4 linked regions of the Homo sapiens genome follow. The protein of the gene in region 2 purifies or fractionates together with the protein of the main gene of each other region. This does not show direct contact. Each region holds a gene or a part of one and is shown on either strand. Other genes may lie near its edges.

Region 1 (7,024 bases), on a different chromosome or scaffold from region 2:
GAGTGCTGCGTGGCCTGGCCTGGTCGCGTGTTAGGCATGTGAGTGGGCTCCACATGTGCACGTCCTCCTTGTGTCCCGGAATGAGGCCAGGTCTCCTCCGTCCTCCCTCTAGACCAGAATGGAAACGACCTTCGGACCCGCCTTTTCAGCCGTCACCACCATCACAAAAGGTGAGCCCTTAAGCCAAGGCCAGCCCAGGCTGGGAATAACCGGGGCACCCCCATGCCCACCCTGCTAAGGACTGAGGGACACTTCCCGGTGAGCTGGTGTTGGGTGCCAGTGCTGGGCGCGGGCAGCCTCACACCGCAGCCTGTGTCCTCACAGCCTCTCAGCCCTGGGCCTCCCCACTGGACAGGAGTCGGGTGTCCTGCTCCTTGTGCCTCGGTGACTGTGCTGTGCCCTCTCTCCCTGCCCTCTTCATCCCCTCTAGGGAGGCTTGCCCTGACATCTCCAGCACCACCACACAGCCCTGTCCCTTGTCACAGTGATCCCCAGCTTGTCCCCAGTCTCAGGCTCCTGGCCAGCCTCCGAAAGGTCCCGTGTGCCCGGAGGTCTTCTCTTGAGTTTGGCCCTAGGGCTTCAGTAACAGTGCTGCAGTTGTGACATGTTAATAGGAAGGGAGGGAGAGTGGAAGAGATCCATAAGTCTGGTTTGTTTTTTTGAGACGGGTGTCACTCTGTCACCCAAGCTGGAATGCAGTGGCGCAATCTTGGCTCACTGCAACCTGTGCCTCCTGGGATCAGTCCTGCCACCTCAGCCTCCCAGGTAGCTGGGACCACAGGCACCACCACACCTGGCTAATTTTTTTTATGTTTGGTAGAGATGAGGTCTCACCATGTTGCCCAGGATGGTCTCAAATTCCTGGGCTCACGTGATCCTCCTGCCTTGGCCTCCCAAAGTGCTGGAATTACAGGCATGAGCCAGCAAGCCAAGCCCAATAAATCTTCACCTGCACAAGACCACTGGGCGGGATACACGACAGAAACCTGAAGCTTCCCTGCTGCTTCTCAGTCCTATCCCCTAAAAACCAGAGTGCTGCGCTTTGAACGCAAGCGCCGTGCTCAGGGAGACCATGCGGAAGTGGCAGTGCCTTCTTCCCGAGGTGCAGGGCCAGGGACCCTCATTCCGGGGTGGGGTTCTGGGGTGACTTTGTTCTCTCTCCTTTCTGGCACTCTGCCCTTTGTAGAAGCACACTGGCTGCTAATTAGCTTTTTAATTGCTCTGATAAACCTGGCCATGGGGTCATAGGGCCGCCAAGGACACCTGCTTACAGTAGCGCCTCTTTGCTGCTGGTGATCCCCTCAGGGGCTCTCCAGGGGCCCTCTTTTTTTTTCTAATCCTACCCCCCAAAAAACGGTGCCTTTTCATCTACCCTTAGAAGCCCCATGGCCCCTGTCACACGGCGGAAGGTACCCATGATGGGGCAGGGCACGGCTGCTATGCCTGGCCCCTCGGCGGCAGGGATGGGCAGAGCCAGGCAGCAGGGCGCCCACAGGTACCTCACCTGGCCCCTCATGACAGATGGGGAAACCGAGGCCCAGTCACACGGCAGCCTCTCGAGGCCTCAATCTCGAGCCCAGGGCTCATCGTGACATCTGAGCTGGGCTGGTCCTGAGTCCGGGAGGTGTCTCTCTCTGCCTCCCACGTGGACTGACCGGCCGGTAGCCCTGCCCTCTGGCCCTGGCCAAGCTGGGGTGACGTGTGGGCAGGAGGAGGGAGGGCACTTCAGCTCCTGCCCCAGAGGAGGCCACCAAAGCTGGGGCCACTTCCTGGTCCTGGCTGTGCCAGGGACACCAGGATGCGGTCCTGGCCCTTCTGTATCCCAGCCCACACCTCAACCTCAGCTTCCCCCTCTGTGAGTGGAGGCTGTCAGGGAACTCACCTGGCAGAGGTGCCTCAAGAGGCAAATAAAATGGCACCCCCAGCTGCTGCCAGGCGGCCTTCAGAGTGATGGCTGCGTGCTGGCCATGAGCCTCAGCTGGCTCAATTGGGGTGCTGGGGAGCTTGTAGAGGCCCTGAAAGAAGACCCTGCCTGGGGTAGGCAGGGCTGGGGCAGGGGCTACCGGGCTCAGCGCTGGGACTGTCCAGATGTAGACCGAGCCCAGCGTCCATGCTCCTGGCACTGGTTTGACCTTGAGAGGGAACCCAAGCTTCCCCCGTGCCATCCCTGCATGCTTTCCTGCCTGCCTGGCCCTGGGGAGGGCTGTGAGCTACAGGGGACCCACAGGGTCGGGTATCCAGCATGGGCCCCACCTCCCCCACATCTGCTGAGGGAGCCCCCACTGAGACGCCAGCCCTCTTGCCTTGCAGCTGACGGGACCAGCACCTACAAGCAGCACTGCAGGACACCCTCCTCCTCCAGCACCCTTGCCTACTCCCCGCGGGACGAGGAGGACAGCATGGTAGGTCCCTACCCCCAGGAGCCCGTGTGAGCCTCAGCCTCCCCCCATCCTCCCTCCTGGGGGAACCAGGTCCCAGGAGGAGTTGACAGTGAGCTGGTGAGGCACAGGAGAAGAAGAGCACCTGTGGATACCCTGAGGCCTCGGCAGACATGGCAAGTCTGTGAGAAAGGAGGCTCCTGTGGCTGGACTGTGGGTGGCAGGGGGCAGCCAGTGAGGGCAGCTGGGTCAGAGGGCCTGGCACCTGCAGGCCAGGATGAGGCATATTTGGCTCCATCTTAAGGGAGGTGGAAACCACAGAAAGTTCAGTCAGGAGGATAGCACAATAAAATACATGCTTTGAAAGCTTCCTTTGCTGCTGGGTAGGGAATGAGCGGGGTTGCTGGGTCCAGGCAGGGTTTGAGGAGGGGTCCTGATGAGGCGGGGGGAAAGGTGTGTGGACCTAAGCTGTGGGGACACCAGAGGCAATGGGGTGGGGGTTGCGGAACCTGCGCCAAGTGCTGGGGGAGCCGGAGAATTCCCTGTTGCTGGCTGTGTGAGGTGCAGAAAGGATCAGGGCAGTCGGGGGCTGGCTGCTGGTACCTGAGCCCTGTGGCCAGGGTCTCAGTGGCCGTTCCCTGCCATCCTGGTCAATGGCGCTCATTGCTGGGCTCTGGGCCTACCCAGGGGACAGAGGCCAACTCTACCCTGGGCATGAAGGACTGGCCCAGCAGGGGGTGGGGGTGTGTGGGGCCTCTCTGGCAGCTGCCTCTCTCCAGTGCTTGGACACCAGGTGTGGCGGCCCTGCTGGCCCTCTTGGGACCGAGGCCTTTTCTTTTTTCCTTTTTTCTTTTTTTTGAGACGGACTTTTGCTCTTGCTGCCCAGGCTGGAGTGCAATGGTGTGATCTCAGCTCACCACAACCTCCGCCTCCCGGGTTTAAGTGACTCTCCTGCCTCAGCCTCCCGAGTAGCTGGGATTACAGGCGTGCACCACCACTCCTGGCTAATTTTGAATTAGTAGAGATGGGGTTTCTCCATGTTGGTCAGGCTGGTCTCGAACTCCCGACCTCAGCTGATCTGCCCCCTCCTTGGCCTTCCAAAGTGCTGGGATTACAAGTGTGAGCCACCTTGCTCAGCCAGAAAAGAAGTTTTTAATTAATTGAACAAACACACCTGTGTGCCGGGCGCTGTGCTAGGCCGAGGGCGAGTTGGGTATGTCTGGGCCCCGTCCCCTGGGCCTCTGCCTGCCTCGGTCTCCACAACCCGAAGCCACGAGTCCTCCATGTCTGTGGTTCCCATAATCACCTGCTATCCCCATGGGTCACGGTGGCTTTCAAGAGAGGCGGGTACCTTCTCTGTTTGCTGATAGGCCCACACAGGGAGTCCCCCTCCTGCCCTTCCCCCGTCCCCCAGGCCTGCCTGCTGTCAGCCCCTACGCCCAAGAGGGTGGGAGACTCTGGGGTAGTATTGGGCAGGCCCGGGAGAGTGGTTCCCGTGCCAGCTCCTGCTCTGCTCTCGCCCCTGGGGCTCCCTCTGCTGCTGTGGGGCCTTGTGACTCACTTTCTCTGACTCCCTTCTGTTCCCCATGTGCTGCTTCCATGCAGACGGGCCCTTGGGACCCAAAGGGAGGTGGGTACATGGCACACAATGCCCCCCGCCGGCCTTGGGACTGGTTTGCCTCTGTGCTCTGTGGGTTTCATACCCAGGCTGCCGGGAAGGGGGCCAGAGGCTCGGCAGAGCAGCAGCTGGGCCCCTCTGCAGTCAAAGCACCAGGAGAGAAGCCTTGGGCAGTGTGGCTCTTGGAAACTTCTGGAGGTTTCCAGGCCAGAGGGGAGGAAGGGACAGTGTCTGCCCCTCCCCCAGGCTCCCTTGTCGGTGGCTCAGCCAGAGGCAGGCACCTGTGGCCCTCACTCCTGCCCTCGGGAAGCTCAGCCGAGGTTCTCTGGGGGCCTGGCCCTGCCTTCCCTCTGAGCCTCCCAGCTGGGCCTGGTGTCCCCCACCAGCAAGGCCAGACAAGCAGCCAGGCCCGGGGGGCACCTGGAGCCCAGCCGTCGCTCCCTGCCAGCATTCCTGGCCCTTCCATCCTGCGGTCACGGCCTCGGCTGTCCAGGATTGGCTGGTGGAGGTGCCCCCTCACGGCCCACATTCCCCCACGGGAAGCAGGAAGCAGCCCGGGTATATGGAATTGAATAGCAGGAAGTCTCTCCATTTACACAAAGAGAGGTGGCAGGCGTGAGCGGGCAGCCCAGCACCCCGGCCCAGGCCGCCCAGGCGGGCAGGCAGGGACCTGGGTTGCATCAGCTCCCCACGCCCACCCACGGCCCCCGTGGACGAGGAGAGTACCCGCAGGGACCGGGGTGGCCCCAGGGGTGCTGCTGCCCTCGCGCTTCCGCCGGGCTGGGTCCTGTCCTCCCCGAGGCTCTGACCCCGTGCGGAGCCCCCCGACAGGCGCCTCTCCCTCCACACAGCCCCCCATCAGCACTCCCCGCCGCTCCGACTCCGCCATCTCTGTCCGCTCCCTGCACTCAGAGTCCAGCATGTCTCTGCGCTCCACATTCTCACTGCCCGAGGAGGAGGAGGAGCCGGTAGGTGTGGGGGACTCGGCGCAGAGCGGCTTCCAGGGCTGTCACCGCAGCCGTGGCACGGAGGCACCTTCCCCTCCGCCATGCCCGCCCAGCTCACAGGGAGAGGGCGGCTGGGGCCTGACGGGAACTGCAGTGCTTGCTGGTCCGTGGTGGGGACTCGAGGGACCAGGCCGGGTCCCCTGGGCATGTTCCCCCACTCCCCCTTCTCAGGGCTGCCCGGGAACTGGCAGCGGGAAGCACAGGGCTCCAGCAGGGCCCTTTCTAGTCTCACCCCAGGAAGGAGGCGGGCGAGGGCGGCCAAGGCTGGGCGGCTGAACTCATCCTCCGGGGTTGGGCCCTGCCTCTGGGGCCACAGACCTCGCTCTCCCTCCTGGGCCCCGATCAAGCCCCCCAGCTCTAAGCAGGCCTCTCTCAGGACGTGACCCTGTCCTCAGAGGACAGCCAGGCCTGGAGCAAGAGCGCCTGGGTGCCTGGGTGGTGGCGGGGCTGAGGGTGGCCTCCCGCCATCGCCTGCCTTTCCCGCTTGGTTCCAGGAGCCACTGGTGTTTGCGGAGCAGCCCTCGGTGAAGCTGTGCTGTCAGCTCTGCTGCAGCGTCTTCAAAGACCCCGTGATCACCACGTGTGGGGTGAGCCCGCCGCCCTTCCCAGCCCCCCTGCTGCCAGAGGCCCCCACAGGACCCCAGGGCTCTCGGGGGCCGGGGCTGTGGCGCCCTGGCCTTGGTCAAGGCCTGTCCTGGCTGCACTGGGCTTGGGGTACAGCGAGGCCTGTGGCTGCCATGGCCATGGACTAGGGAAAAAGAGGACCCTGCGCCACCCTCAAGCCCGCCCTTTGCCTCCACAGCACACGTTCTGTAGGAGATGCGCCTTGAAGTCAGGTAGGTTTGTGCCCCGGCCCAGGCCTGACGCCGACCGTGCCCATGGCTGCCGAGCAGAGGCGGGCGGCTTCTCCCTTGTCCCCTGCACAGCGTCCGGCCCTGTTTGGCCTCTGCTGGGGTTGGGATGGGGCTGCAGCCGTCCTAGGGACGCTCAGGCTGAGGCTCGGGACCTCCATGAGCAGAGTGGGGACACCCCAAATTCCAGTGTGTCCAGACTCAGAGACCCCACAGTGGGTGTGGGCCGAGGCTCCCCATGCCAGGGTTGGCACCCTCTGGGGAGGCCTTTCTCACTGGCGAGGCTGTCGTCCTCCCGCACGGCGCCCGCTCCTGCCTGCCTCTCCGCACTCTGCCCTCTGCCCTCTTGGCCCCACCCCACACTTTTCCGGGCACAGCTGAGTGTCACAGGTGACACTCCCTCAGCACCTGCTGCTCCTTCTTGGTGGCCCACCTGTGCCCCCGTTCCCATGTTGCGTGCCTCAGAGGCGCAGATGGACAGATCTGGCCCCCATTAGAGGCTCATGCCCACCCGGGTGAGGGAGCGTGTGCCAGGCAGGCCGTGAGGGTCAGCACGCCCTCCTCTCCCAGAGAAGTGTCCCGTGGACAACGTCAAACTGACCGTGGTGGTGAACAACATCGCGGTGGCCGAGCAGATCGGGGAGCTCTTCATCCACTGCCGGCACGGCTGCCGGGTAGCGGGCAGCGGGAAGCCCCCCATCTTTGAGGTGGACCCCCGAGGGTGCCCCTTCACCATCAAGCTCAGCGCCCGGAAGTAAGTGCCCCTCCCTGGGCACCTCTGCCTCCCTGGGGGCTGCTTCTCAGGGCTCTGGCTGAGGCCTCCCCGCATCCCGCCCTGGCACAGGGACCACGAGGGCAGCTGTGACTACAGGCCTGTGCGGTGTCCCAACAACCCCAGCTGCCCCCCGCTGCTCAGGATGAACCTGGAGGCCCACCTCAAGGAGTGCGAGCACATCAAATGCCCCCACTCCAAGTACGGGTGAGTGGGGGGCGGGCGGGGGTGGGCCGGGGTGGGCGCAGGCCCTCCACAGGCTCCGCTGAGAGCTGCCCGCTTGCTGGTCCCGGGGAGGTAGGCCGGAGCTGGGGCCACACCGGGGTCTGTAATCCTCTCTGAGGCCCAAGGCCCTGGAAACCCAGAGGGGGAGCCGAGGGCGTCCAGGAAGGCGGGCG
Region 2 (7,178 bases):
ATGTGGAGAAATAGGAACGTTTTTACACTGTTGGTGGGAGTGTAAATTAGTTCAACCATTGTGGAAGACAGTGTGGCGATTCCTCAAGGATCTAGAACCAGAAATACCATTTGACCTAGCAATCCCATTACTGGGTATGTATCCAAAGAATTATAAATCATTCCACTATAAAGACACATGGACACGTATGTTTATTGCAGCACTGTTCACAATAGCAAAGACTTGGAACCAACCCAAATGCCCATCAATGATAGACTGGATAAAGAAAATGTGGCACATATACACCAAGGAATACTATGCAGCCACAGAAAAGGATGAATTCATGTCCTTTGCAGGGACATGGATGAAGCTGGAAACCATCATTCTCAGCAAACTAAACAGAGGAACAGAAAACCAAATACCGCATGTTCTCACTCATAAGTGGAAGTTGAACACATGGACACAGGGAGGGGAACATCACATACCAGGGCCTGTCAGGGGGTGGGGGCTAGGAGAGGGATAGCATTAGGAGAAATACCTAATGTAGATGATGGGTTGATGGGTGCAGCAAACCACCATGGCATGTGTATACTTATGTAACAAACCTGCATGTTCTGCACGTGTATCCCAGAAATTAAAGTATAATAAAACAAAGGAAAAAAGTCATAGAAACAAGAAGTTAGATTTTACATTCGAAATTATAAGCTAGAATAACATATGAAAATTCAGGTGTGAGATTCCAATAAACTGAACTATATGAAACTGCTGTGTTTGTAGGTCACAACAGCCAGAAATGTACCACCTTCTACAATTCATCCTAATAGTAGAAGTGTAGTTCTAGGCTATAAGGGACCCAGTATGGGCCCATTCACAATGCACCTGCAGTGCACACGCTTCACGCCTCTGGTGGCCTCCCGAGGGTACTGTACCTGAGCAGAAGCTGTTGCTGCTAACGGTCCTCGCTGAGCGCCCAGAGCTGCTGGGGTTGAACTCTCTGCTCTCTTCCTCAGAGAAAGGAGACTCAGAGGCTGGGGACACTTTGTGCTGTTGTTGGGGCATATGGGGCCGAAGAATCAACCGGGGAATTCGGCTTCGAGAAATCTCCTTGTCATGATGCTGCACTCTGTGCTCCTTCTCAAAATTGGACATCAAAAAAGAAAACAAAAGGAAACGCGTTTCCCTCTCTTAACTCCTGTCGGTTCCTTCAAGGATCAATTTCTAAGAAATCACATTTCTGAGTATTGAGTCTTCACAGAGTAGTCCTTCTTATCTCAGTTGCTGAAATGAGCTTCAAAACTCTTCCAATGAGTTAACCTTTCTAATCTACTGAATAGCACATGTCTGTGTGGCACACACACACACACACACACACACATATACACACCTCCACTCACTAGCTGGAAGGCCATCCTACTTCCCTATGCTGGTCCTGACTCACCTTCCCACCCTGACTTCTATCACATTCAAGCTTCTGCCTCCCAAAGGCTCTTTATTAACACCACACTCTGGCTTACTTGATAGCCTTCAGACTTCCATTTTGCTTTCCCTAAATTAGCTGTGACAGTCTGACTTGTTTTCTTGTCTCCTCACAAAGTTGAACCCTATACCTGGAACAGTTATTTCCTGATAGCTCACACACAATTATCTTTAAAATCCCTCCTCTTCTGGACAGGATCTTAATTATTCGTTAATATCCTGGTACACAAGGCTTGTTGCCAACAGAAAAGCAAACACAAATCCGATACTCGGGAAGATGGCTCCACCTTTTACATCATCTTTAATTTTTGTTTTCCTTACAGGACATCCATAAGAAGAGATTTTTCTTTCTCCTTAAAAACGCAGCATGAAGTACCCTGCCATTTCGTGGTTTTAAAAATGCGTAACAGTAATATTTTCACAATGTTTTCCAACTTATAAAGTGCTTTTCCAACCATTTTCTCATTTGATCTTTACACACCAGACTGTACATAGAGAGCACACCAATGAATGTCCCTATTTTCAGATGAGGAAACAGGCTAAATGGGGTAGAGATGCTTAGGCAATTCTGCACACCATGCCAGAAGTAGAACGAAATTCAAATCCAGTGCTTTGCAGGGTCACCACCACCCTGCCTTATGAAAATGGATTCCTAGGAGGAGCGTTTTGCAAAAATTCCACTGCTTCCTCCAACCTCTGCCACTGAAAGGGACTCTTTGGCTTAGGTAACAAACACCCTTTCGAAACATGACCTACTGTTCCTTCCACCGGCTTACCAGGAAGGGTCACGGCCAAAATAAACACCTCTGGGAGGCCGGCACATGGCATAAATTGAAGGGTAAACCTCAGCAATGGGGAACTTCGGAGGGCCCTCAGGCATCCACTCTACCCGGGGGCCGCCAGCCGCACGCAGCCTCGGATTCGCCCTGCACATCTGCCGCCCAGCAGGTACCATGCGCCAGCCACTCCGCCGGGCACACCGCAGACCCTGAGCTAAGGCAGGGTCACTGACACGCGGGAGTCCTCTTTTCCCAGTCGCGGATGCATCAAATTCCTTTCATTCACATCACACACACAGGATATCAACTGAAAGCTACACCCCACAGTCCCAGTTTCAGGAGGTGGGATTAACCCTCCAATCATGTCATTCTCCAAAATCTATTCCTCCAGTACCACCTCCCCATCTCCTGGATCTCAACTCCTAAGCAATGCCTCCTGCCTTCTCCAGACCCCACCACCACCTCCTTCCACCTTTCCCCAGACTCTAAATGTCACCCCTCCAGCTCTCATCCCGCCGCTTCTCGCCCCGCAGTGCCCGCCTTCCCCGCCCTCCAGTGCCCGCACTGCCCCGCGCTCCTTACCTTGCTCTCGCGGAGGGGCCCCATCGCGCCGCTGCCCGCCGGCTCCTCGCGCCGCCGCTGCCGCCGTCCAGGAGGAGGCACCTGCGAGCACGGAGCGAGGAGACTGCGCTGAGCCGGCGCGGGCTGCGGGCGGCGGCTCTTGGTGAGGCTCCAACGCGCCGCCGCCGCCACTGCCGCCGATTGCTCTGGGCTCCGAGGGCACGCCCGACCCCGCCCCGGCCGGACACGTGGTGCCGCACTCGCTAGAGGCAGCTCCTGGGGCGCCTCCCACGCCCTCCCTCACCTGCGGCCTTCGGGGCAACTCGACCGCGCCTGGGCGCGCCCCACCCGCCCGATTTCCCCACGGCACTCCGCGCCCCCCCAGCCAGAGCCGGTGTCCCTCCCTCTCCAAGGAGCTCGGCCCGGTGTAGGCAGGCTGCGGCTAGCGGCATCTCCAGCCCAGGGGTGACCCCACCCTCTTTTTTTTTTGCACTTGATCTCAGGTTTGAAGTGGGTGGCGTTGGATGGAGTGACTGAGAAAAGCTGCGACATCACAGAGAGACAAAATAGAGAAAGTTTTCCCCTGGCCACCCCTCCTTGGCCTCCAGGTCTTAAGTCAGCCTACAGCTCCCCACAACTGCCTCGCCCGAGAGCTGCAGAGATCCCTCTCGTACCGGAGCCCAGCCAAGCCAGTGCGTCAGGACCGACACAGCCTCTGGGTTCCGGGATCTGAAAGGCTGCGATGGATTCTACTTGGAAGGGGTTGCATCAGAAAGGCCTTCAGTGGTCAGCGCAGCTCCCTCCGGCTTGGAGAAGCCAGGCTGCTATGTAGCCAGAGAACAGTCTTTTCCCCAGCGCTGCCCTGCAGCTGCCCGGCTCCAGGAAGTAGCTCCAGCACACTGCTAAGGGAAGAGCACTGGAATTGAACTCAGAAAAACGAGTTCAAGCCAGCACTCCAATCGGTCCCTTCAGCCTGAGTGCCTTTATGCCTAAAGTTTTTGTTGTTGTTTCGTTTTTTGTTTTTTTTTTTTTCCGTTGCTGTTGAAACGGCATCTCGTTCTGTGGCCCAGGCTGTAGTACAGTGGCGCGATCAGGGCTCACTGCAACCTCTAACTCCTGGGATCAAGGGATCATCCCGTCCAGGCCTCTCAAAGTGCTCGAATTACATGCGGATGCCATTGCATGCGTGGCCTACGCCTACGGTTCTTGACCCTTCTGAACTTCAAATTTACCCTTGTTAAATTGAGGGATAATAATAGTGATACCTACCTCTAGGATAGCTGTGAGGGTTAGGTGAGGAAAACAAACAGCTCTATCCAGCTGATTGAACAGAACTTTCCAAAGGGCAGCTAAGTCAGGTCCAGATGATCCAGTCAATATTTGTTGATGCCTTTTACATGACAGGCAGAAAAAGCATTTGTGATGCACACAAATTTGTTTAAGAAAGCTCGAAAATCTGTCCAACTGGGGACTTAGAATAGGGTACATCAGCTGGGCCAAGGGCCTTGATTTATTACAATTGCTACCCTTAAATCTTATCTGGTGGTGGAATTCACCATGTATAATGACTTATATACCCTTTATTCAGAATTGGAGAATATTCCAAGCAGTGCGACACTCTGATCCTTATGCACCAGTGTCCTACATAGGAGGACTGTGCTCCTCGAAAACTGAGGGTCATTGTCCCCTTTCATCCATCCTCCAAACAGCATTTCTGAGTCCTCAACTCTCAAGCCTAAGAATATATGTTGTGAGTCTAGAGAGAGCCTGAAGCCAGAGGATTAGTGGAATCAATTTCCCTTCTTCCTATAACTCCAAAAGAGAGCTTCCTCCATAAATCTTCATGCCTTTTCAATCTACTTAGCTCTCTCAAGCAGTGAGGTTGGTAATTTTAAGATTCTTTATTTGGGAAGAAGAGGTGATTAATTCATACTTTCTACACCCACAGCTGTTTCAAATATGGACCTCAGGAAAGTGATGGTCCAGGATGATTCATACAACTTATTATTCCTAAAATTATGAGCCTGGGATCATATACTGTGAGATAAGAACAAACTTTTAAAGTTAATGGATGCTTCTGAGTTCCCTACTTAGAATTGAGAATTGACACTGGGGACCTAATAGCAGAAACACCCTCCACTGAGTTAGCCAAGTCAGAACCTCAGTGTCATCGTGGACTTTTTTCTCTCATTCACCTGACCCACACATAGCATAAACCACCAAGTGATCTCTATGCCACCCAAGTAATAACGGTCTTGAATCTGATTACTTCTGTCCACTATTTGTCTCCATTATCTTCGTGTAGAGTGTAAACCACAGTCACCCTAGATTATTGCAATAGTGGTCTAACTCAAGGTCTCTTGCTTTCAGCCTTGCCTCTTATTCCTTTCTCTCCGATCAGTGTCTCCATTTTTCCACAAGCCTTTATGAAAAGCTAAATCAAGTCATGCTTCTCCGTGAAAACTCATTAATGATTTCCTGATTGTCCTCCAGGTAATACTGAAACTCCTTAATGTGGCACACAAGGCTTTCCTGATCTGGCCGCCTTGTTTACCTCTCCGATCTCATTTCTTGCCACTCCTCTCTTTTGTAGATACTCCCTCCCCTCCCTAACCTGTCCCTTTGGTCCCTGCCACTCTTCCCTTACATACAAATGGATACTGCTCAAACTGTAGCACTTTCAGTTCTCGGAGGTGGAGGTTTTGTATTCTCTTTTTCGTCGAGACTGCTGCACCTGCCTCTGTTTAGAACATTTCTTGCACTACATCCACCTATCCTCCTCAACTCTTAAAGATACATTGTTTCATTTTAGACAGCTTCTTCCAGGAAACCTCCCCTGATGATTCCAGGACACTTATTTTTACCCCCAAGAGAGCTGTTATGATCTCCTCAGAATTCCCCATTTACTTGTTTGTTTTCACCAAAGCTTGTAGGCAGTGCCTAGTACAATTCCTGTTATACAGTTGACACTCAATACATAACTGTCAAATGAATTAATGCCTGAATGAGTGAATTCTATAACCCCATAAGGGGCCCATCAGTGCAAGATAAAGAACATAGATACAACTTGTTTTGAAAATGATTCAGATAAAGCTGCCTCCACAATGTATTTGTATCTGATGATTGGGTGTGTGCCTAAAAAATCCAACATGTGTTCAGTGACAGCTTTTACTGCAGAAGTGCAGGCACTGAGAGGCTGTGCAGTAGCCTTGCTGTCGCCATAGCAACCTAGCAGAGGGAAAGGCTGATGATTTAGTGTTCAGATGCCTCTTAGCTCTGTACTTTTGGAACCCAAGCCTGTTTTTCCACTGTTCTAAAAGGCAAGTTTTACCGATGATAATATCTATGCCGCCTTAATTTCATTCAAGTGTTTCTCATGTCATTAGAAGAAATGTCTTGTAACATTTGGATTATACCATCAAAGAGATATAATCTAATACAGCATAATATGGTCTTCTTTCCCCTGCTTTAAAATAGTCTTATGCATCATTTTCATTTTTTACTTAAAGACTTACTTTATGGTCTTGTTTTATCACCTTTTGGCTTCTTTAAAAATTAATGTATTTCTGGCTTTTAGAAAATATCAATTGCTTTAGGATTTAACCTTGAAATATTATAAATAATATATAATAATATATATATACAATAATATATATATATAATATATATATATATCTCCTGGCAAAGCACAGGAGAGATAGGGTATTGTAGACTGGGAAGGAAGGTAATGTCTTTATATAATTATTCCCTCAAATCTGGGATAAGTTACTTGATTGTTTATGTGAAATTTGTAATTAAATGATTCCTACCTTTCGTATGCACAAAACTTTATATTTTCAGAACTCTTTCACATATATAATTTTATTTGAGCCTCACAAAAATCCCGTGAGGTACATGTGGCCAATCTCTGAGACCAGATAACTGAAAAAGCATAGATTTTTATTAATAGGAATCCCCTAGACTGCAAACTTCACAGAGAAGACAATACAAATGCACTGCTGAAAAGAAAACGCCTGCACCAAACAACCCAGACACATCACGGTCCCTCACATTCACTCTTCCTCACATCTCACCTGTGTATGCAGGGGGTTTTCTTGGGCTCAATCAGGGCTGACAAAGCACCATCTCCTAATCCTATCAGCTGTGTGAGCAAGAGCTGCTGTCTCTCTCGGTGACCTAATGTTGGGTGATCTGCACAGCAACAAGGAGCAGCTGACGTGCTTCACAACACGTCACGAAGGAAAGAAACTGCATTCTGGGGCATCGTGAGATTTTTTTGTGTGTGTGGTGGGGTGGGGTGGAGACCCATATTTTTCTTACCAGGGAGAGAGCTGCCTGTTTTCCCATAAGAGCATGTGTGATTGATCAACCCTCCTCCTTTTT
Region 3 (7,124 bases), on a different chromosome or scaffold from region 2:
GCACCGAATGCCAGCATTCTGCCAGGTGGACTTTAAACACTCAATGCTTAGGGTGCTCAAGCCAAGTGTTCACAAGTATACTAAGAGCTTTGAACAAAATACCTTTAGAAATTTGAGACCCAGAGCACTTCCAGAGGAAAATCCCAGCTCCTTGGAACAGTTAGTTCCAAAGACACAGGTTCAGAATGGAATTCATTAAATGAGGCCTTTCCCTGAACTCTAGGAACATTTGTAGTAGTGTTATTAAATTGTCAGGTGGAGAAGACAGCGGCTATCAAACAGAGTTCTCTCCAGCAAGCCTGCTTTCAAATTGTTAATTATGCTTTGATAAATAAAATGTAGTTAAAATGGGGCTTTAGAGACCATGAAGTTCAACCTCATTCTTTTGCAAATGAGACAACTTTGTAGAAGTTCGCCCAAAGTCTCCTGATCCTCAGTGCAATCCTTATAGTTTTATATCATGCACTGGTTTCATACAAACAGCATAAGTTCTGTACTCACACAGATCTGAGTTCACATCCCCACAGCACACACTGGTTTTCTGGCCTTGGATGGGATACTCCTTCATTCTGATACTGTTTCCTTATTTGCAAAATGGTGATAATACTATCTAGCCCACAAGATTGTTATGAGGTTTAAATATGCTAATCTATGCGACAGGATTTAGCTCAGTGTCTGCTGCATTTTAACACTGAATAACATTAATTTCATTGCCTTTCCCTCTACCCCAGGCTTCACATCACCCCACCCCATCCTAAGCGTTTATTGTTTAAAACAAGGGAAAGGTAATACAGTTGTATTTATTTTAGGATGCCAGTGGGAGCAAAAAGCACAGGCAAAGGACACGTATTTTCTTTCCATGGTTGCAGTAGTCATGGCAAAGCAGTGACAAAGAGAAGTGGGAAAGAAACCGTTCTTCAGGTGATCAGAGGAAACGCAGATTAGAACTGGAAACTGTCTGTGAAACCAACCCTTCAAGCGAGGAAGGAAGTAGTGCAACCTAGCCTGCAACACTAATTTTCTCTGGACATGCATCGTGAGAATTTGGTTCTCCCAGTTTTTTGGAAGGTGTCCAGTCCCACACAGCCTGAAGTCTTTCCAGTAATAGGAAGGCTTTTCTTATCCTTCATATTTGAATAAGCTCTAAACATCCTCTTCTTCTTCATGGTCTCGGATAAAATCCTTTAATTATAGCATCAAAATCACCAGGGGGAGATTTAAACATTCTACACGAGTTGGCCCCACTCTTGGTGATTCTGCTTCCGTAGTCCTGGGATGGGAATCTCAGGAAGTTATAGTTGAAAAAGCTCTCCAGGATAAGAAATCTGGGGTAAGGGTGGGAGAATGAAAATCCTCCCATGATTCATATGGTCTGTGTACACAACACTTCTCTAAGACTCTCTGAAGTTTTCCAACACCATGGAAGTCCACATTTCTTTAAGAGGGCAGCAGTCTTCAGAAAACAGTGCATCCGCGTGTCCTGGAGTGAACACAGGGATGCAGGTGGCTCTCTGCTAGAGGAATCCTTGAATGATCAACTTGCAAACCTCCCTCCCCTCGGACACAGGCCCACAGCTAAACCATCTCGGCCAGATAAGAAGACATCTTGGCTGGGCACAGTGGCTCACACCTGTAATCCCAGCACTTTAGGAGGCCGAGGCTGGTGGATTCCCTGAGGTCAGGAGTTTGAGACCAGCCTGGTCAACAGAGTGAAACCCCGTTTCTACTAAAAATACAAAAATTAGCCGGGCGTGGTGGCGCACACCTGTAATCTCAGCTACTTGGGAGGCTGAGGCAGGAGAATTGCTTGAACTTGGGAGATGGAGGTTGCAGTGAGCTGAGATAGTGCCACTGCACTCCAGCCTGAGCTACGAAGTGAGATTCTGTCTCAAAAAAAAAAAAAAAAAAAAAGAAGAAGGCATCTTAATCCTAAGTATGAAATGTCTATGTGTCAGGCCCAAAAGTCCCAAAGTTCCAGGCTGTGAACAACTCTGCCTATGGGAGAAGGGGGGACACTATTCCCTTAATGGCAAGTATCACCTCTGCCCCAGAGTCCCCATGCCACTTGCTCATCCTTCATCAAAGTGTATCAGGCCTCCAGGGCACCCCCAGGATTGGAGAAATGTGAGGAACAAGGCCCAGCAAGGCCTAAGCCAATGTCCTTGAACAACACTTGGTTTCTTTCTTGCTGCTTTCTAGTGCCAATAGCTTTATTTTTCTACTTTGGTATACTAGGATAGAATCACAAACTTTAGAGCTAAGGAGACTTGGAGATACAGGTCAGACCCCCTCCTGTTACAGAGGAGGAATCTCTCGTCTAGGGAAGGGCAAGGGATTGCCCCTACCTACTTTACCAAAAATAAACCTGGCATGAACTTGGCCTTCCCAGATAAACGACCAACGGCCCAACAGTCAGCCCAGAAACTCAGGTGGCAAACCTCTATAGTCCTTCCCAGATAGATCGGGCCCCACCTGCCCCCCCGCTCCTCATCCCAGGCAGGCTCCGCGCTGCCCCGCGCCCGCGCTGTGCTGTACCTGTCCCGCAGGTTGCCGCTGCGCAGCCCCATGGCCGTGCACTCAGCCTCGCTCACCGGCACCCCTTTGCAGGATTTCACCGGGTAGATCCAGAGCTTCGCCACGGTGCCCACCTGCTGCAGCCGCCGGCGCCGCCTGGGCCATGCGCGGCGCCAGGCGACAGTCCCCAGGGCCACGGCGGCCAGTCCTAGCGCGGCGACCCCGAGCCACCTGGGCCAGGGCCGGGCTGGGAGGCCGAGGCGGGCCAGCGCGGAGGAGCTGGAAGCGCCCATGGCAGAGCGAGGGCGGGCGCGGACCGGCGCACAGACCCGGCAGCGACCGGAGACCGGGAGGACGAGGAGGCCCTTAAGGATCCGGGCAGGCGAGAGGAGTCAAAGTTGACCCAACTACGGACCCTCTCACACTTTCACCGCCGAGACGGCAGAGCAGTTCCGCGGAGAGCGGGAATGCCTTAATGCGGTGACCAAGCCTGCGCGGTAATGGAGGAAGACAGGCAGACAGCGGCGGGGGTACCCTGGGCGCCGTGGGAGCGACGCCGCCCAAAGCAAGCGAGCTAATGGGGCGGCCTCTGGGGTGGTCAGTGTCTCCTCCCTCTTCCCCGCCCCTACAACACGACAGTTACCCATGCAACATGACCTTCAGCGCCAGCACTCTGCCACCCCCTTCTCTGCTAATACTGCACGCTTAGTCGCTCGACAAGATCACCGCAGAACGTGAAGGCGGGTTGCCCAACGGAGGATTTACAAACATTTGGGAACGACTTTTTCTGGCAGGTCGCTGTGAGAACTGCAGGACTTTCTGCACACAAAGACACAGTCTAAACCTCTGCACTCAAAGACGAGGAACTCTAGCGTGGCTTATAGGAGCATGACTCAAGGTCCCCCACCCTCCGCTGCCGCCTAACCTCGACCCCAGTAAAATGTCTTCCCGAGAAAGCTCAAGGCAGCCAGGAGAATTCCCCGTTTATTCTAGCCAACACCCGATGGTAAAGCCCCTGACCTCCCTTTTTTAGGATATTTTCTTAAAAGGGCTTACAACTGTGAATCCTTTCTCTGTTGCTTTGAGATGTATATGTATCGCCTACACCTCAGAAGTGTCTTTCTCAAGGACCTGAAAGCCATTGCTCTGAAATGCAGTCATGGGGAGGATAGGCCTCTGTCCCCCAGTCTCTGTGGGAGGATAGAATCCCAGCTTCATAACGGCCAGCTCCAGGCACAGCTGCCCGTCATTAATACTGACCGCCCCTTCATGATTTTTCACTTGATCCCCTGCTAGCTTCCCGGCCCTATTCTCTCCTTCACCCTTTAAAACGCCCATTCTGCTATGCACAAATGAGAATGATCAGCTTTTTCTCCTACTGTAAGTAGTTACTGAGTAAAATCTGTTTTCATGGTTTAACTAATGTCTGGCTTTGTTGATCTTTAACACCTCCATTCAAGCAAGCTATTGGGTTAACAGTGGATTTTCTCAGACAAATTAAGGTTTGAAGTCTTTCAAGTTTTTTGTTGTTGTTCTGTTTTTCAAAAGTTTGTCCCTTAAACTGTGGCACAGTTCTAGGAAAGTTTAAGGAGGCCAACCAGTGGGCCACCCCCCAAATCTGGGCTGGCCACCTCCAGAGAAAGGGGCCCGTTCTGGAGTGTGGGAAGAGACTCCGGGAAGGATGGAGAACCAGAGGAGCCAGGTTCCCTTTGGCTGTTCCTTGTGAAAAGTGAAAGACAAAACAGGGCCTGAATCTCTCCCCACCCAGGAAAAAACCTCAGGCCAGCAGAATTAGTCCCTCAATCCCCATACATTTACATCATGCTTGGCAGCTGCGACTTATGGATTTGTTTTTTAAGCATGGTGTGGTGAATGTGATGTGTGTACACTTGTAGCTGACCCCCTTTGCCTCTCCCAACTCCTGAGGAGGGTCAGAGTCCTCCCTGCCCACAAGCCTGCTGTCAGAGTGAGGGGCTTACAAAGCCATCGCCTCGCTATACGTGAGCTCCCAGACAGGGCAAATGTCTTATTGATTAATCATCTCTTTCTTTCACCACATAGATATTGATCATTCACCAGGCTTCGTCCTAGATTGGCACTGGGGATTTAAAGTTTAGAAGAAGCTGCCCTTCCATCCAGTTCACTGACTCCCCAGAAGACTGACACCTCCCCTGCAAGTCTAGAGGATAATGTCAGAGGAGAAGCAAGGTCAAGATGCAGAGGATGCAGAGGCAAAAGAGCAGCTGAATCTCAGGACAGTGCTGTTTTCAGAGGGCGGAGCTTTGGAGCTGAGACTTGAACATGAGGAGGGGCTTGGAGATGGGTAAAGGAGAGGATTCTGGGCAAAAGGAGCAGCACGTGCAATAGCCTGAAAAAATGGAAGGAACAAGAGAGTGTGGCATGTTTGGGCAACCACCAGCAATCCAGCTGTATTAGGATGTACCTGTGCATGCAGCAGGTGGCGGGAGTTGAGGCAGGACAGGTGGGCAGAGGTCAGATCAACAGGCATCTTATCTCTACTTAATGTGGAGACACCTCAGAATTCTGAACAACAGTCTGGCATGATTAGACTTGGGTGCTAGGAAGGCCATTCTGGCTGCTCTGAGAAAGAGTAACACCAAAGATGGTTAGATGAGTTGCAAATGCCCTAGTTCAGGCTGATGTAATTCCAAATCAAGGAAAAATAACAGTGGGGCTGGAGATAGACATGTGGTTAGGAGAGATGGTCAGGGGACAGAATTAACAAGAGATAGTGATGACAGAACACAGAGCCAGAGGGAGAGGAAGAGCCCACGGGGCCTCCTGGCTCTGTGGCATAAAAGTCTGGGGTGGGATGGGGGTACCATTCTCAGAGATTAAGAATTCAAGAGAAGCTGGGCACAGTGGCTCACACCTGTAATCCCAGCACTTTGGGAGGCCGAGGTGGGCGGATCAGGAGGTCAGGATATCGAGACCATCCTGGCTCACATAGTGAAACCCCGTCTCTACTAAAAATACAAAAAATTAGCCAGGCATGGTGGTGGGCATCTGTAGTCCCAGCTACTTGGGAGGCTGAGGCAGGAGAATGGTGTGAACCCAGGAGGCGGAGCTTTCAGTGAGCCGAGATCGCGCCACTGCACTCCAGCCTGGGCGACAGAGAGAGACTCCGTCTCAAAAAAAAAAAAAAGAGAATTCAAGAGAAGAAGATAGTCTGGGAAAAAAGATGATGAGCCTATTGTGAACAGCGAGTGAGAGGTATCTTTGAGACATCAAAGAAGAAATAGTTACCTAGATAGATGGGTAACTTGACCTTTCCATGCTTCCACCTCCTCATGTGCAAAATGATGGGGATAGACATCAAGTGAGGAACTTTGCCATGGTGAGTGCTGCCAAGTCTTTGCTGTCTTCACCAGCCATTATCTATCATAGCCTGCCCTGTTTAAGCTTCACCAATGCTGGGGTTGGGGGTGCCTTCAGGGGAGCAGGGAAATTCCTTATCAGTAATGTGTACATTTGCAGCCCAGCATCTTCATTTGTAGAATTAGTGAGGGGTGATGAGAGGCTGTATTAGTCCATTCTCACACTGCTATAATGAAATACCTGAAGCTGGGTCATTTATCAAGAAAAAATGTTTAATTGGCTCATAGTTCTGCAGTCTGTACAGGAAGAACGGCGGCTTCTGCTTCTGGGAGACCTCAGGGAGCTTTTACTCATGGTGGAAGACAAAGCAGCAGTGGATGTCTTACATGATAGGAGCAGGACCCAGAGAGAGGGGGGAGGTTCCACATGCTTTTAAACAGCCAGATCTCATGAGAACTCACTCTCAGGATGATAGCACCAAGGGGAATGGTATTAAACCATGAGAAACCAGCCCCATGATCCAATCACCTCCCAGCAGGCCTTAACTCCAACACTGAGGGTTGCAATTGAACATGAGATTTGGTTGGGGACACAGATCCAAACCATATCAAAGGTTGAGGATTCATGAGTCTAATTGGCTGTTTGCATATCTTTTTTCCCTTCTGATTTGAATCAACTTATCTATTTTTTTGTTAATTTATAAGATCCTTTTATAAATTAAGAAAATTACCCTTTTATCATGCCTTCCCAAGTCATAACTTTTTCCCCTAGTTTGTCATATTTTGGCAACTTCTGCTTAGGAAAAATCTTTCTAGTGAATAAGACATCATTGTCTGCCTAGAGGCACTGACATAGATAAAGAAAACTCTGTCAATTAAAATATCAACCAAGAAACCAGAGAAAAAAAGAAGCCTAAAACCCAAATATTACCTTGCTTAGCCAGGTCCTCTTCAGGAAGGTGAGTACCCAGCAGCCAATGGAAGTATTCATCAGGGCCATGTAGCAGTTTGTCTTTCCTGGGGAGATGAGCACATCAGATTATCAGGCAGTGAGGATAGTCAACCTTCAACCCATATAACAAATCTCATGACGCAGGCTAGGCTAAAATATTGTAACAACCTCAACATCTCAATGCTCTAACAAAATAAAAGTTTATTTCTCACTTACATCCCAGTTTGATGCAGGCCAAACATTAATCAAAGGTCCCCTTAGGCCAGGCCCAGTGGCACACACCTGTAATCCTAGTGCTTTGGGCGACTGAGGCAGGAGGA
Region 4 (6,897 bases), on a different chromosome or scaffold from region 2:
AATTTATCAAAGTGAGAAAAGTTAGCATGACTCTAAAATCATGACTTTCACAGTAAAAAAAAAATGACACATTGCAACTGAGGATGGATATAAGAGGAAGAGAGACACAGACAGAAGGGTGGGGGAAGGAGAGTGTTGGAGAATGTGTGTGCTGGAAGGGTGGTAAATGAGGGAAGAATAAAAACATCTTCTAAAAGGCCTGTTCTGCTATCTTTTACAATAAAAATCATTCCTATAAATTTAATTTTCAAAATGTGTCTGTATTTGAAATTTTAAAAAATCAACTTTTCAAATGGTAAATGAAACTTATTCCAAGTGCCTATTACATCTTGACAATTGGTAGATGCTTTTTTAAATCCTTAAAACAATTCTACAAAGAAGGCATTATTTTTCCATGAGACGGATAATGAAGTTTTTTTGTACTACATTAAACTCCCTTTTTTAACAAGAATGTATAACGTATAATAGCTTAAAATGTGACTCTCTTGAATGCTCTACAAGGCCCCTCCATTTATATAAATAGAGTTTTATGCATCGCTTAATTATGGGGATATGTTCTGAGAAATGGGATTTCATCATAGGAGCATCATAGAGTATATTTACACAAACCTAGATGGCTCCATGGTATAGCCTACTCCACACCTAGGCTATATGGTATAGCTTATTGCTCCTAGGTTACAAAGCTGTTCAGCATGTACTGTACTGAATCCTGCAGGCAACTGTAACACAATGGCAAGCATTTCTGTATCTAAACATAGAAAAGTAAACATATGGTACAAAAGATTAAAAAGATACACCTTTATAGGGCAGCCCCATTATAATCTTACGGAACCATTGTTGTATATGTGGTCTGTTGCTGACCAAACCATCTTTATGAGGTGCATGACTGTACACAGAACGTGGTATAACCATTTAATATACTCATTCAAATATTTATTAAGTATTTATTAGGTACTGTAGACATAGTAGTGAACATGTTGATATATAATAGCAATGAACGTAGAGTCATCACATTACAGACCATACATTCTTATAATGGGAAGCAGAAAACAGACCCATACAAGAAAAATAATTAATGTGCTAAGTGCTATAAAAAGAATTAAATACATACCAGATTAAGAAGTGACTTTGTGTTTACCTTTTACTGGATAAACAGAAGAAGCCTCTCTGAAGTGGTGATATTTAAGTTAAGATTTTCACCAGCCAGGTAAAGAGTAAGGGAGGAGCATTATTGGCAGAGGGAACAGTGAGTGCAAAGCTCCTAAGGTGAAATGAGCTTGCAATGTCTGGGAAAGAAAAAAGGCCACTGTGGAATAAATAAAGTGGGTGAAAGAGGGATATGAAGGCAGTGAGATATGTAAGAGTGAAATCATGAAAGGCTTTAAAACCATGGTAAGGAGGAGTTGTTTGTTTTTTTTTTTCTACATGTGATGGGAGACCAATAGAGTCTTTTACTGGGGAGGAACAGAGTCTGACTGCAGTGTGGTGAAAGGAATGCTGGACCATGAGTTGAGAACTGCTGCCATAGCCCAGTTGAGATGATGGCACTGAACTAGCAGTGGCAGAAAAGGGACAGGGCTAGAGGGATGATGGGAATTCAGAGTTTGGTGATGGACTAACTGTATCTTCGAGATGACAGAATTGAAGGATGAGTCTTTTGAGACAAATTTGACAATATAGCTTTTAAAAATATAAACTTACCTCTTTCATAAACTGTTCAAACTCTTCATCTAGCTCTTCTTGGGAACAGTTAGCCATAGTCAACAATTTTGACCTCCCAAAGTAAACATTCTAAAGTACCTCAAACATTGGAAACACTAAATGACAAGAGACATAAACATCTTTTGAGGAAATCCATCAGATCATGAACACGACCAGACTTAAACTTCGGACATTTGTTATGATTCAGTATATATGCACAATTTTTTTTAACCAGTAAGAGCTGGTCAAGAGATTCCTAATTCATTAAGCAAACTGATTTGGAAAAGCAGCTTTGACAGGATGTCTTGTACTCAACGTTCAGAATTATGTTTTCATCTGTTAACATCCAATTGTTAAAGAGTGGTCTCTACAATATTTCCCAAACCTATGTTTGTGTGCATGTGTTAATTAGTACCTCTCAAACACAAACCAGGTCCTCACAGGGAATCTTAAAAACTGTAAGTTAGCAAATCCAAAGGACTGTTTCTTTCTTGCAAAGCACACGACAGTTTGTGCTGCCTTATCACTCGGCTCGTTATTTTACCAATCCATAGTAATAGTTTCGTAAAGCAGACTGCATAGTTTCGTAAAGCAGACTGTATCCAGATACGGGGATGTTTCAAAATATACACAAATAGAATTTAGTAAGAATTAGTAATTTAGTCAAAATACTTAAAGAATACTTAAAGTTAATGGAGTACACAAATCAGTACTATGTTTCTTTTGAAGCGAGGGAAGACCGACAAAAATTATGTGCTGAACACAAGCAGAATCCAGTGATTTGCAACGGAAAGCGTTCCCCTAGACACCTAATGAACCCAACCTTGGGTCGACCCCCAGCTCCTGAACTCCCTAGAGCAGCTCAAATCCCAGCTTTCTTCTGTAGAGATGGGGGAGGGGAAGAGGGCTTGCAGACCCGGACAATACCCTCCCCATCGTGCAGAGTAACACCTCTTCCCCTCATTTGCACTTTCGATCAGTTCAGGGTAAGTGCGGTTAAGGTCTTGGCCTGAATAGCTTGGTCAGGGGTGAGCTCCACTAAAAGCTTCTCAAGCCTGGCTGCGACCCCGTCCCCAGAAGCGCGGGTTCGGGAATTGGAGGGAAGACAAAGACGCATTTGCCGTGGGCTCCGGGCGGAGAAGGGGAATGACCTGGAAAATTAAAGCCCTTCGCTCGAGTATGAAGCACGGCCTCGACCAGGGCGATTTGGGTGGGAAACCAGCGTTCACACCTTACCACCTACCTCTGCCTCTGAATTCCGCGCTTTCCCGGAAGGTCTGTGCGGGTCCACCAGTTGTCAGGGTAACAGACTTCAGCTGCCGGGTTCTGGAGTCACATGACCCGGGCTGGTCACGTGGGCCGTGGGTTTCCCAATGCCTTTACAAGCGAAGGTCGGAATAACCACGGCTGAGAAAGACACTCTAGTGGCTAAACCTTCGCTGCTGCAGTAAAATGCCTTTCCTTCCCTGGCTTTCTCTACGTTCCTTAGAAAAGGGGACAGCGGCAAACCGGTTACTGGAGAAGCGAGACGGAGGCTTCCAGCAGGCTTGGAGGGCGCGGTGGTTGTAGGCCAGCCCGTGGCTTTCTGGGAAATGTAGTTTAGCTCCCCTGGTCCTTGTGTTTCCGCACTCCGCATCGTCGCCTCCCGCCTTCCCCACACTTGTCATTCGAGCGCTCTGTTTTTCCAAGGGGCAATTTTGAAGAGATTGAATTTCTTGGATTTCTTTGGCCTGCAAAGACCTGTGTAGGCATTGTGAGAGAAACACAAACCTGTGAGGAAAAAAACTGTCGTTTAGATGGGGACTCTGTTCCACCACCTAGTGGGCAAGAAATCGAAAATACGCAAACAGCAAGATTCTTATTAAGTTATTGCTCCTCCCGCTACCCCTACTTTTCAAAACTGCATTCTTTACTGGCATTTCACAATTACTGACTTGGATTTTGTTTTCTATTTCTTTTCTTTTTTTCAAAGCATGCAACATTAGCTGGAGTTTCAGAGGACAACATTTAGCATAGTGTAAGTAAAATCTACAACAGCTGCAGGTTTTGCTGATGGTAGACTTAGTTCAGGACCTCATCTTTAGCTAGAACTGTTTATTCATCAAGTCTTTCTTGCAATACAAATATGTACAAACCAGGAGCTGTGGACTATGATGCAAATATGAATAATAAAAGAAATATCTTAAGCTACCATTTATTGAGAAGTTGACTTCCTGCCACCTTCTATCAAAGACTTACCTTCCCACATATGATCTAGAGCCTTTACCCATTCTTCTTCTCACTGATCTTGTTCCACTGGTCATTTCCCTTAATCCTGTATCTTCGACTTCTGGCTGGCTGTGGGATTTTTCCTAACAGCATTTGAACATGCCTTGAGATCCCCACCTAAAACATCACTTCTGACACATTCTCTTCATGCTATTATTTCCCAGTGGTTGAAATGATCTGTCTCCTCACCTTACTTGCCAATCTTTTCTGAGGAATTATTTCCACTTTACCTCCCTTTTGTCAGACCTTTTAATCCTGTCTCTGTGTGTGTAAGTGTACATATATGACAGCGCTTTATTTGATCTCCCAATACTATTTGATACACTTGTCTCCTCTCTTTCTTGGTTTTTCTTTCACATTTATAGCCTCCCCTCAAGGGTTTTCACTGTCTCTGTCTATCCTAGCTGACCTCTAAATGTTAGAATTTCTTTTCTTTTCTTCTTTTTCTTTTTTTCTTTTCTTTCTTTCTTTTTTTTTAATTTCTATTTTTTTGAGACGGAGTCTTGCTCTGTCACCCAGGCTGGAGTACAATAGTGCGATCTCGGCTCACTGCAACCTCCACCTCCTGGGTTCAACTGATTCTCCTGCCTCAGCCTCCCGAGTAACTGGGATTACAGGTGCCCACCACCACACCTGGCTAATTTTGTGTTTTTAGTAGAGACAGAGTTTCACCATGTTAGTCAGGCTAGTCTTGAACTCCTGATCTGCCCACCTTGGCCTCCCAAAGTGTTGGGATTACAGGTGTGAGCCACCGCGCCTGGCCAATGTTAGAATTTCTTAGGGCTTATTTCTGGACTCTTATTCTGTCACACTTCATGGTACTTCCATACACCTACTCATTCAAGACAGAAATCTGGGAGTTCCCTCTCTCCCATATTTTATTCGTCAAGACTTGTTGGTGCTACCTCCAAAATGTGTCTCTATTCTGTTCATTTTACATCTTAATTACTAATGATAGAGGCATCTTTTCCTCTTGTCTGAGCTGCTTCATTAGCCTTCTAACAAGTTTCTCTATTTCTACTCCTATCCTCGTCTAACCCATTGTCTACACAATAGAAAATGTGATAATTTGAAAATGTAAATCAGGTTACTCCATTGCTGAAAATCCTACAATGATTTCTCTCTGTATTTGTACTAAAATCCAAATATCTACAAGGACTTGCATGGTATGGTCGGCACTATTCTCTTCTACAGCCTCCTCTCACCCCCACTCACCAAGGCATGCAGAATTATTTGCAGCTCTGGTACAGAGTTCAGTCCTATTGAGGTTAGAATTGGAGCTTTGGTATAAGGAGTGGAAGATGAATGTTACTGTGTCTAAAGAGTGAATAATCATTTTGTCTCTATGCGTAAACCTACAAAACTTATGCTTATAGGATCCAAGAGTTTGTTATGCTGAATTGTGGAAGGGATGTCACTAAATTTTTGGTACTGAATTGAATTGTTATACATTTTTCAAAATAATAGTCATTAAAAGAATGATTAATATTTTTTGAGAGTTTACACTGTGCTGTATACTATTGTATTCATTTTTATAAAATGAATTGACCTCATGACCCATAATTTAAAACACCATTTAATACTAGCTCTCATCATAAATATATATCTAAAATGTCAATGAAATGGCTACTTTAGTAGTTAAATCACTCTGGGTAGCATCAAAGTTTCCTACTTTTAGATTCTCCATAATTGTTACAGGTTTCTCAATCATTATGTGTTTCTTTTTGTGTTTCCTAGAATGATATGAAATTTGATTTATATTTGGTGTTTATCCAGCTCTCTAGTGAGGTTCTAGAGGGGGAGACTGTACCTCAAGCCTTATATTGCCTTTTCTCGTAGCAAACAGTACAGTGTGAGAACTCGGTCAACACTGACAGTATAGTTGTAGCCAAGACCTGCAACGGTAATGGGGTGTAAACTTAGCACATTGTGGGAGTGGATTAAGGAGAAGAACTGAATCAGATACAGTTACATAATAGTTCCAGTTGCTTGCTTCTTTACCTCTAATTTTCAGAAGTGGGTATTCTCTTCACTTATGTGGATAATGAGGAAGACACTGAAGGAATCGTATCATTCTAGTCATAAGAAAATTAATGGTTTTTTTGTTATTGCCATCGTTATTTTGTTTGTCAAAGTCATTGTTGACTTCTGCTCATTTGTCCACATCTGACTGCTTTTGACTACTTAAAATTTTTCTTAATTGTTTTGTATATGAAATGTAGTAGTCAAAGTTTAAGCTATTGTTATAAGTTGTTCCCAAGAAAAAGAATAATAATTCATAGTAGAATATTGAGAAATTGTACAGTCATATTTACAAGTATTTAAATGTTTCTAAAATACAGGCAGATGCTCTTTCCCTAGGGTATGCAGAGCTGCCCATTTACAATTATATCATGAACTCATGGATGGTGATTTAGGTCATGAAATTGTTTTTAAAATAATTCTTTAATAATCCAGTAAATGGCCACTGAGGATGTCAGCAATTTGGCTATGCTTCTAAATAATACAGTTATCAACATGGTTTTATAATTATTATGGAAATGTAAAAACACAAAAATTGACGAATCAAGGAAAAACTCAGCCTATGAAGACCCTGTGAGGAGGAAAAGACAAACTAAAGACTAGGATGAAATATTTGCAAACCACATATCTGACAAAGGGCTGCTATCTAGAACATATAAAGAACACTAGCAAAATAGCAAAAGCAAAATACACAATTAGAAAATGGACAAAAGACACGAGTGGACATTTCACCAAAGGGGACATGAGAAAGGTATATGAAAATGGTGAATAAGCACATGAAAAGATGCTCAGCATCACCAAGATATTCCACATCATTAGGGAAATGCAAATTAGAACCACAATGAACTATCAACTGGGTGAGTGTAGATATGAAGAGGTAGCATAGGAAATCTTTGTAGTGATGGA

The links.
Region 1: the proteins of SYBU (region 2) and TRAF7 purify together in Homo sapiens (affinity purification with mass spectrometry; 2 studies listed by BioGRID and IntAct, with this or other methods). This does not show direct contact.
Region 3: the proteins of SYBU (region 2) and MTARC2 purify together in Homo sapiens (affinity purification with mass spectrometry; 2 studies listed by BioGRID and IntAct, with this or other methods). This does not show direct contact.
Region 4: the proteins of SYBU (region 2) and CEP162 purify together in Homo sapiens (affinity purification with mass spectrometry; 2 studies listed by BioGRID and IntAct, with this or other methods). This does not show direct contact.

Annotation. Positions count from the first base shown.
Region 1 is NC_000016.10:2,165,767-2,172,790, forward strand, and holds part of TRAF7 (E3 ubiquitin-protein ligase TRAF7), read left to right. Parts: intron 1-90; exon of another isoform or gene 91-112; coding exon 113-170; intron 171-2,310; coding exon 2,311-2,402; intron 2,403-4,847; coding exon 4,848-4,964; intron 4,965-5,497; coding exon 5,498-5,590; intron 5,591-5,805; coding exon 5,806-5,839; intron 5,840-6,424; coding exon 6,425-6,608; intron 6,609-6,698; coding exon 6,699-6,833; intron 6,834-7,024. UniProt on the Homo sapiens protein: E3 ubiquitin and SUMO-protein ligase that plays a role in different biological processes such as innate immunity, inflammation or apoptosis. Potentiates MAP3K3-mediated activation of JUN/AP1 and DDIT3 transcriptional regulators.
Region 2 is NC_000008.11:109,641,820-109,648,997, forward strand, and holds the start of SYBU (syntabulin), read right to left. Parts: upstream 3,004-7,178; 5' UTR 2,898-3,003; coding exon of another isoform or gene 2,841-2,897; coding exon 2,817-2,840; intron 2,404-2,816; exon of another isoform or gene 2,310-2,403; intron 1,372-2,309; exon of another isoform or gene 1,129-1,371; coding exon of another isoform or gene 1,114-1,128; coding exon 909-1,113; intron 1-908. UniProt on the Homo sapiens protein: Part of a kinesin motor-adapter complex that is critical for the anterograde axonal transport of active zone components and contributes to activity-dependent presynaptic assembly during neuronal development.
Region 3 is NC_000001.11:220,744,215-220,751,338, reverse strand, and holds the start of MTARC2 (mitochondrial amidoxime reducing component 2 isoform a precursor), read right to left. Parts: upstream 3,018-7,124; 5' UTR 2,808-3,017; coding exon 2,536-2,807; exon of another isoform or gene 2,524-2,535; intron 10-2,523; exon of another isoform or gene 1-9. UniProt on the Homo sapiens protein: Catalyzes the reduction of N-oxygenated molecules, acting as a counterpart of cytochrome P450 and flavin-containing monooxygenases in metabolic cycles.
Region 4 is NC_000006.12:84,224,636-84,231,532, forward strand, and holds the start of CEP162 (centrosomal protein of 162 kDa), read right to left. Parts: upstream 3,009-6,897; 5' UTR 2,945-3,008; intron 1,818-2,944; 5' UTR 1,759-1,817; coding exon 1,702-1,758; intron 1-1,701. UniProt on the Homo sapiens protein: Required to promote assembly of the transition zone in primary cilia. Acts by specifically recognizing and binding the axonemal microtubule.